Homo sapiens: one gene and its partner. The protein of the gene in region 1 purifies or fractionates together with the protein of each later gene. This does not show direct contact. Each region holds a gene or a part of one and is shown in the gene's direction. Other genes may lie near its edges.

Region 1 (4,008 bases):
CTGTCCAAATCTCCTTTTATCAGCCCAGTCCAGGAACAGTGGTGTCCTTCTTGGTGTAGGGCTTAACGTGAGCCTTGCATGCACCTAGATCCATATCCAGCATTGCAGGCAATTCTAGTATTCCATGTCAAGAAGGCTGGCAAGAAGGCTGGTGGGGCAGGTGCCCCAGTCCATCGGCCCTTAGTATATGCAGAGGGTAGCTCCAAGTGGGGCCACTGTGATATGAAGGAGGATTGTTTGAATTCAGGAGATTGAGGCTGCAGCGAGCCGTGATCACACCACTGCACTCCAGCCTGCATGACAGAGTGAGACCCTGTCTCAAAACAAACAGGCCGGGCACAGTGGCTCACGCCTGTAATCGCAGCACTTTGGGAGGCCAAAGTGGGTGGATCACCTGAGGTCAGGAGCTTGAGACCAGCCTGGCCAACATGGCGAAACCTCGTCTCTACTAAAGATAAAAAATTAGCTGGGCATGGTGGTGGGCACCTGTAATCCCAGCTACTCGGGAGGCTGAGGCAGGAGAATCACTTGAACCCAGGAGGCGGAGGCTGCAGTGAGCCGAGATCATGCCACTGCCCTCCAGCCTGGGCGACAGAACAAGACTTTGTCTCAATAAAACAAACAACCAAAAAGAAAAGAAAAAAGATACTTTTCTAATATATGACTGGGAAAAATGGGAAACTATAAAGGAAAAGATGGACAGATTTGACTGCCTAAAAATTAAAACTTTCTCAATAGGGCAAAACAATAACATAAGCAAAGTTTAAAGGTCTGTTGACAATGGGAGGAAAATACGTCTAGCGCTCTCTGTATCAATGCCCCAACTCTGGGTTTGTGTGGCATTGGTCTAGACAGCACTGTACATAGTGCCCCTGAAGTTGTGCCATGCTGTGGCCCTGGCCTGAAGCTTGCCACCACTTGAGACCTATGCATGGACAGTGGATCCCTCCAGCCTCAAGTTGTCACTGTGCGGACTGCTGACTGGGTGCCTCTGGGGGACTGGGCTGTAAAGATACAGCTGTTGCCTGCTGGAACCTCCAGTGCCAGAGCAGCAGCTGGGACAGGGGTGGTTTGAGGTAGACGTCTCTGCTGGTCATTGTGGATACACCATTTGACTAATTTTTTTTAGCTACCTTCTTGATTCCAGAACTTTTGTAGCCTTCCTCTTAATCCATTTCTGATTTGGAGGTGTTTTTTTTTCTTTCAGTTGCAGAGCTATTTTGCTGCATGTGAGGATGAGATCCCTGCCATCCGGAACCATGACAAGGTCCTACAGCGTCTGTGTGAGCACCTGGACCACGCCCTGCTGTACGGGTAAGGTGGAGGAAGTTTCCAAAGATGACGGAGCACAACCCAGGCCATGAGTAGCCTCCACAGAGAAACCCTTAGCCTCTCTGCCTTTTCTTTCTTCTCTCCCCTTGGCAGAAAGGGATTTGTCCCACTCAAGTGGGCCACAGTCTCTCTGTAGTTACCCCAGTAAATCATCTCTGGGCAGACATAAATGATGGAGGGAGGATTTGCCACAAATGATATGATGGTGTGAAGGTGTGCTGGGTGCCTGGGAGACCTGCTGGGGATCCATCACTTCCTGCCTTGCGCTCACTGCTGGACCAGCCGACTGCAGCTTCCCAGGGTGGCCCCATGCAGGTCACAGCAGCTCCTGTCCTGTTTTCTCAGACTGCAAGACCTCTCCTCTGGCTACTGGGTGCTCGTGGTGCATTTTACTCGGAGAGAGGCCATCAAGCAGATCGAGGTGCTGCAGCACGTGGCCACCAACCTGGGGCGCAGTGAGTAGTCACAAGGAGACGCTGGGGAAGGGACCAGCTCCACCTTCGGTGGGTAGCTTGGGGCTCTGTCCCAGGTTTACCCTCAGGGTCAGCCCTGGGAGGCAAATTACCTGGTGGTGTCCAGTAGCAGTGGGGTGTTAAAATGCCAGCACCAGGCCAGGCATGGTGGCTCACACCTGTAATCCCAGCATTTTGGGAGGCTGAGGAGGGAGGATGGCTTGAGGCCAGGAGTTTAGACCAGCCTGGGCAACACAGTGAGACCCCATCTCTACAAAAATTTAAATATTACATGGATGTCTTGGTACACACCTATAGTCCCAGCTACTCAGGGGCTGAGGTGGGAGGATGGCTTGAGCCCCGGAGTTTGAGGCTGCAGTGAGGCATGACCACAGCATTGCACTCCAGCCTGGAAGAAAGAGTGAGACCCCATCTCTAAAGATTTAGGAAAATGGCCGGGCACAGTGGCTCATGCCTGTAATTCCAACACTTTGGGAGGGTAAGGCAGGAGGATCCCTTGAGCCCAGGAATTTAAGGCTGTATTGAGCTGTGATCACACCACTATACTCCAGCCTGGGTGACAGAGTCTCTGTCTCAAAAAATAAAATAATAGTAATAAATAATAAATTTATAAAATGCCAGCCCCCTCCATGAGGCCTCTTTTCTCCCCACATATGATGGTTTTTTGGCACAGCAGTGATGGGGAGAAAGAGGGCGAGCTGCCAGCGAGAGCTGGACTCTTATGGAATCCCAGCCTGAGCACGTGCTATGGAGTCTGGTTTCTCTCCCTGAGCTGGGATCACTGTTAGCCTACAGGATCAGTGCAGAGTCCTGGCGTTTCTTGACCTGTCTGAAGTGTGCAGTCTGCCCTCTTTATCAGAATTTCCTGGCCAGCTACATGCTGAGGTCTGACTAGGAAAATAAAGCACTCAGGGGTTATGGTACCCCACCAAGCACAAAGGCCACTGAAGTGCCTGGTCCCATTACCTGCTCTTTCTTTCCTTTCTGCGCTTGCTTGGCAAATAAAAGCCAGCAGTCTGAGAGGCCTTCCTGCCGGTTACTCCTGCCTTTGTTTGCAGGCCGTGCCTGGCTGTACCTGGCCCTCAACGAGAACTCCTTGGAGAGCTACCTGCGGTTGTTCCAGGAGAACCTGGGCCTGCTGCATAAGTACTACGTCAAGTGAGTGTCTGGGACGGTCTGTCTCCCCTAGCCTCAGAGCTCCCTTTCAGCTACCTCCCAAAGGCTCTTGTCATGCAGACAGCACAGTGTGCCACATCAGTGATGCCAGAGAGCCATTAGAACCTTGCCAGTAGCTGGGTAGCCTTCACCAGGAGCACCGGTGTCCCATCTGGGCTCCTGGGTACAGTCTGGGTCTCTGCTGCTCCCTGGTCCTCCTCCCAGGCTTCAGACCTGACCAGTGCCCATGCTTTGGCTCAGCCTTTGCTGGGGTTGCTGCAGGAACAGAGTGTGTACAGCAGCTGCTGAGAGCCTGACAAGCCTTGTGCTCGTCCATCTCTGAAGACACTGGCAGGACAGTGCAGTGTGGCTGCTAACCCAGTAGGAGATCGCTGAGAGGGTGGTGGGCAACAGCTATATCAAGCTGGGTGCCGTCCAAGGTGGAGGACATCACGTGTCAGATTTCAACACAGCTGGTATGTTGGTAAGGTTAGGCCAGGCTGGTAAACAGACCCAGAGGCACCATCGTGGCTTCTCATGTCTTGCAGGAATGCCCTGGTCTGCAGCCACGATCACCTGACGCTCTTCCTGACCTTGGTGTCCGGGCTAGAGTTCATTCGTTTCGAGCTGGATCTGGTGAGACACCAGGGCTCTCACTGCTTGTGGGAAGCAGAGGAGGGGGCAGGGTGGGGGCAGGGTGGGCGGTGGCTTCATTTCTCAGGTCTTGTTGAGGGAGCTTGTTGAGTATGACTGGGCTTGAGCAAAACTTGTTTTTTTGGGCGAGGGAAAGGTTTCAGGGTCCATCGAATTGAGTGAGAAGAGAAGTGATGGCAAGAATTCCTGGTTCAGGTGACTTTTTCCTATCTCCCTATCCAACTTGGAGAAAAGCCACATTGCCTGGAGTATCTTAGCCCAGAAGAACTGGCCTTCATGTTTAGGATGTGAAGAGTTAGAAGGACAAGGCAGTTTCAGCCTGGTGCTTCTGGGGTTCTGAAAAGTGTCATCAGCTCCATGAAGAGCCTTCAGCCACCCTCTTCAAGTTCTCAAG
Region 2 (3,352 bases), on another chromosome or scaffold:
GCCTCCTCCGTCCTCTGTCCCCGTGTTCGTGTGTTCACCGTGTGCATGTGTGTATGTGCTTGTTTTGATGCAGGGACCACCCTCAGCTGAAGACTCCCCCAAGTAAGCTTAATGGGCAGTCCCCGGGCCTGGCCCGGCTGGGACCTGCCACCGGCCCCCCAGGGCCCTCTGCCAGCCCTACACGGCACACGCTGGTTAAGAAGGTGTCCGGCGTGGGTGGGACCACCTACGAGATCTCGGTGTGAGGACTGACTGCCACACATCCGCCATGGTGCCACGGGGACCAGGACCCCACAGCGCACCCCCCCTCCCCACCAACTTCTCTGCCCCAGGGACCCGAGGCCACCCCAGCCTGGTGTGGACCCATCGGCGGGAGAGAGTGCCACGCCTCCACAGCTTGCCCCAAGCGCTCTGCCTGCCCGTCCACTCATCTGCCCATGGGGAAGTCGGCTCACTGGGACAAGGGCCACTGGGCTGGTCTGTGTCTGGGCCTGTCCCATGGCTGGGGCAGTGAGGGGGCCCAGTCAGCCTCTTTGGGGCACCCTCTCTCAGCCAGGCTTGGCCCACTGCCATCACCCAGCACCCCAGATCACCGCCAGGCCAGCCCCCAATGGTCCCCTTACGGACAGGTCCCAGAGATGGACAGAGGCACCCAGGGCCCCCACCGTCCTTCTGACACAGCCTGTGGGCTCCCGGACCGAGTGTCCCCCGCCAGGCTACTCCTAACTAACGCGTTGCCTTTCACGGACCCCGCTGGAAGCTTGTAGCTTGGCAAGGCTGATGCTTCTGCCCTGGCCTGCTCTGGGTGGTGGTGGATAGGTGGACAGACGGCCAGCCAGCCAGCTGTGGCCGGGGGCCCGGCTCCATGTGTCCCGTGTCTGTGTGCTGTGCTGCCGCGCCGTGTCTGATGTGTCAGTGCTCCGGCCGCCGCTGTCCCTTTCATCAAAGCCTTAACCTTTGCTTTATGCTCTTGTGGGAGGCGACGGGGGGGCAGGCGGGAGCAGGCACGGGGGTGATGCTGCCACAGGGGGCTGGTGACACCCAGAGCCCCCTCCCCAGCCCTCAGGCCCTCCCTGCCAAACTGGAGAACCCCACCCCAAGGCATGCCACGTCCGCAGCCCCGGCCTGGCTGCGGTGCTCGCGCCGTGGGAAAGCACACTGGGGAGGGGTCAGTGCTTCCCTTGGTGTCAGGGACCTGAGAGTAAGCACATGACAGCGTCTGCTTGCGTTGTGTCTGTTTTATGTTTTTATATCTACATCTATATATCTATAATTTTATTAAAAAAAAGAAAAAGAGTTATTTTGATTCTTTCCTTGGGCAAGGCCAGGGCTATTGCTGCAGGATCCCGAGTTAGGGGAGGGCAGGGGCCGGGCCCCAGAAGAGGGAGTGGCTGCTGTCTGGTGTGCAGGGGTCGGTGGGTTCCTCAGGGGCATTTCTGCCGACTTGGGCTGAGTCAGAGGCTTGGGAAGAGGGGGCGGCCGATGGTCTGTGGCTGGGAAGTGTGAGGGTCTCTCGCCTTGGGTCTGTGTCAGTTCTGGCAGTGACAGGGTGTTTGGGGGAAAGACTTGGGTCTGCCGCTACCCACAGGGGACTCTCAGGAACCCGAGAGCTTGGGGAGATGAAATGGGGGTGCATAGGGGCCACCTGTTGGCTCAGGGCCCTGTGGGGGCCGCTGAACCTGCTGGAACTCTCCTGCCTGCCACATGCCAGGGGCAGGGCTGAGGGAGTGTGAGGGATGCACAGCTGTTCAGGGCTGAGACATTCTGGGCTGGGGCTGTCCCAGCGTGGGAGGCGTGCGGGCTGTAGGGCCCCGAAGCTGACCTCCACCTTTCTGCTTCTCTCTCACGGACGCCGCGGCCCGCAGGGGGCGGATTGGCACCTGCACCCGTGGATGGGGGCGGCGTGGCCAGCCTTGGGTGCCTCCTGGGCTGCACCTGTGCCACCTTGGCCGCCCGGAGGACCGCCCACCACTGCGGGCCCCCTGGAGCCAGGCCGCCGGGGCACCCCCACGCGGGGCCATGTGCCGCCTGCACTTGGCTGCCTCCAGTCTTTTCCCCAGCCTCTCGGGGCCCTAGCAGGATGACAAGTAGGCGGCTCTGGGGCCCAGGACAGCCCAGCTGGGGACCCAGGAGGTCAGACTGCAGTGGACCCTGGGGCAGGGCTGGGGGTGGGCTGGGCTCTCTGCTCCACCAGCCACAGCTTGACAGATTCCCAGCCTGCCAGGGCCTGAGACCCTGTGTCCACATGACCTCAGGGAGTCCCCCACCTGCTGCAGGGGGTCCAGCACCCCACAGGGGGGCAGTCCCAGAGCTGTGGGGACCGGCACGACCTTTGCCCAGCCTCCCTACCCAACCAAGCACTTTAGACTAAGCCACTTCCTCCTCGGGGAGCCCAGGCCTCCGTGGGTTGGGCTGGGTGGGGGGGGGGTCTCAGGTTGCCCCTGAAGGTCTCTGCACTCCTCCTGCCCTTCCCCTGACACATGAACAGATGCCTTAACTTCCTGGAGCCACCAGCCTGGTGAGCCATTGGCCTCTGCCTGCCACCAAGGTCCTGTGGTCTTGGCCAGCTCCGCCTGGGCCCCACTGGGGCTGCCTGCACCCAGAGACGATGCCGGCGGGATCTCAGAGGGCCTGAGGCCCAAGCCCTGTGTCCTCCAGCAGTGGTACGGCCTGCGGCAGGGTGGCACTCCGGCCAGCCCTTCTCCGTCACAGGGTCCCTGTCCCTGGGTCCACCCTGGGCTGTGGCTCTACATCTCCCATTTGGGGACGAGAAAGCCACAAAACCATTCTCTATTGTTCTTAAGGGTACCCCTGCTAATTAATTCCCCAAATAAAATTTTTGGTGTTGATCAGCTCTGTCTACCAATGTGGTCCCCTGGACCGGACAGGGCCCTGGGTTGGGGAGGTGACAGGACCTGGGCAGGGAGGGTGGTGGCCAGGAAGGGAGGGGAGTTGCATGAGGGGCATGAGGTCAGTGGATCAGCAGGTTCAGCGCTGAAAACCTGACCTCTGAGGTCCCTGGGAGGGCCTGGCCCAGGGGGCAAGACCTGAGGACCCCCCAGTCCTTACTGCTGTTGCCTTTCAGTGGAGACCCTCCTAAGACGCCTTGGGGGGTCAGAGCCCCGTGCAGAGGGGCTGCCTTCTGGAGGGCAGGTAGGATGTGGGGTGGGAAGCCGGCCCTGAGCTGGGGTCTCCACCCTGAGGGACCCTCGCTGCAGGATCGCCTGGGCATCCCTCCCCCAATTTCCACAGAGACGTGCTCACCGGCCACTTATGTCATGATTCTATGTCCAGCCACAGGCCCAGCCCTCAGGACAGACCCCACCTCCACCCTTCTCTGCAGCTTCTGGCA

The links.
Region 2: the proteins of PLEKHM2 (region 1) and ZDHHC8 fractionate together in Homo sapiens (co-fractionation; one large-scale study listed by BioGRID). This does not show direct contact.

Annotation. Positions count from the first base shown.
Region 1 is NC_000001.11:15,715,030-15,719,037, forward strand, and holds part of PLEKHM2 (pleckstrin homology domain-containing family M member 2), read left to right. Parts: intron 1-1,207; coding exon 1,208-1,314; intron 1,315-1,677; coding exon 1,678-1,787; intron 1,788-2,863; coding exon 2,864-2,963; intron 2,964-3,508; coding exon 3,509-3,596; intron 3,597-4,008. UniProt on the Homo sapiens protein: Plays a role in lysosomes movement and localization at the cell periphery acting as an effector of ARL8B.
Region 2 is NC_000022.11:20,145,156-20,148,507, forward strand, and holds the end of ZDHHC8 (palmitoyltransferase ZDHHC8), read left to right. Parts: intron 1-73; coding exon 74-245; 3' UTR 246-1,865; coding exon of another isoform or gene 1,866-2,076; 3' UTR 2,077-2,852; downstream 2,853-3,352. Other genes in the region: CCDC188 (coiled-coil domain-containing protein 188), read right to left, coding at 3,310-3,352. UniProt on the Homo sapiens protein: Palmitoyltransferase that catalyzes the addition of palmitate onto various protein substrates and therefore functions in several unrelated biological processes.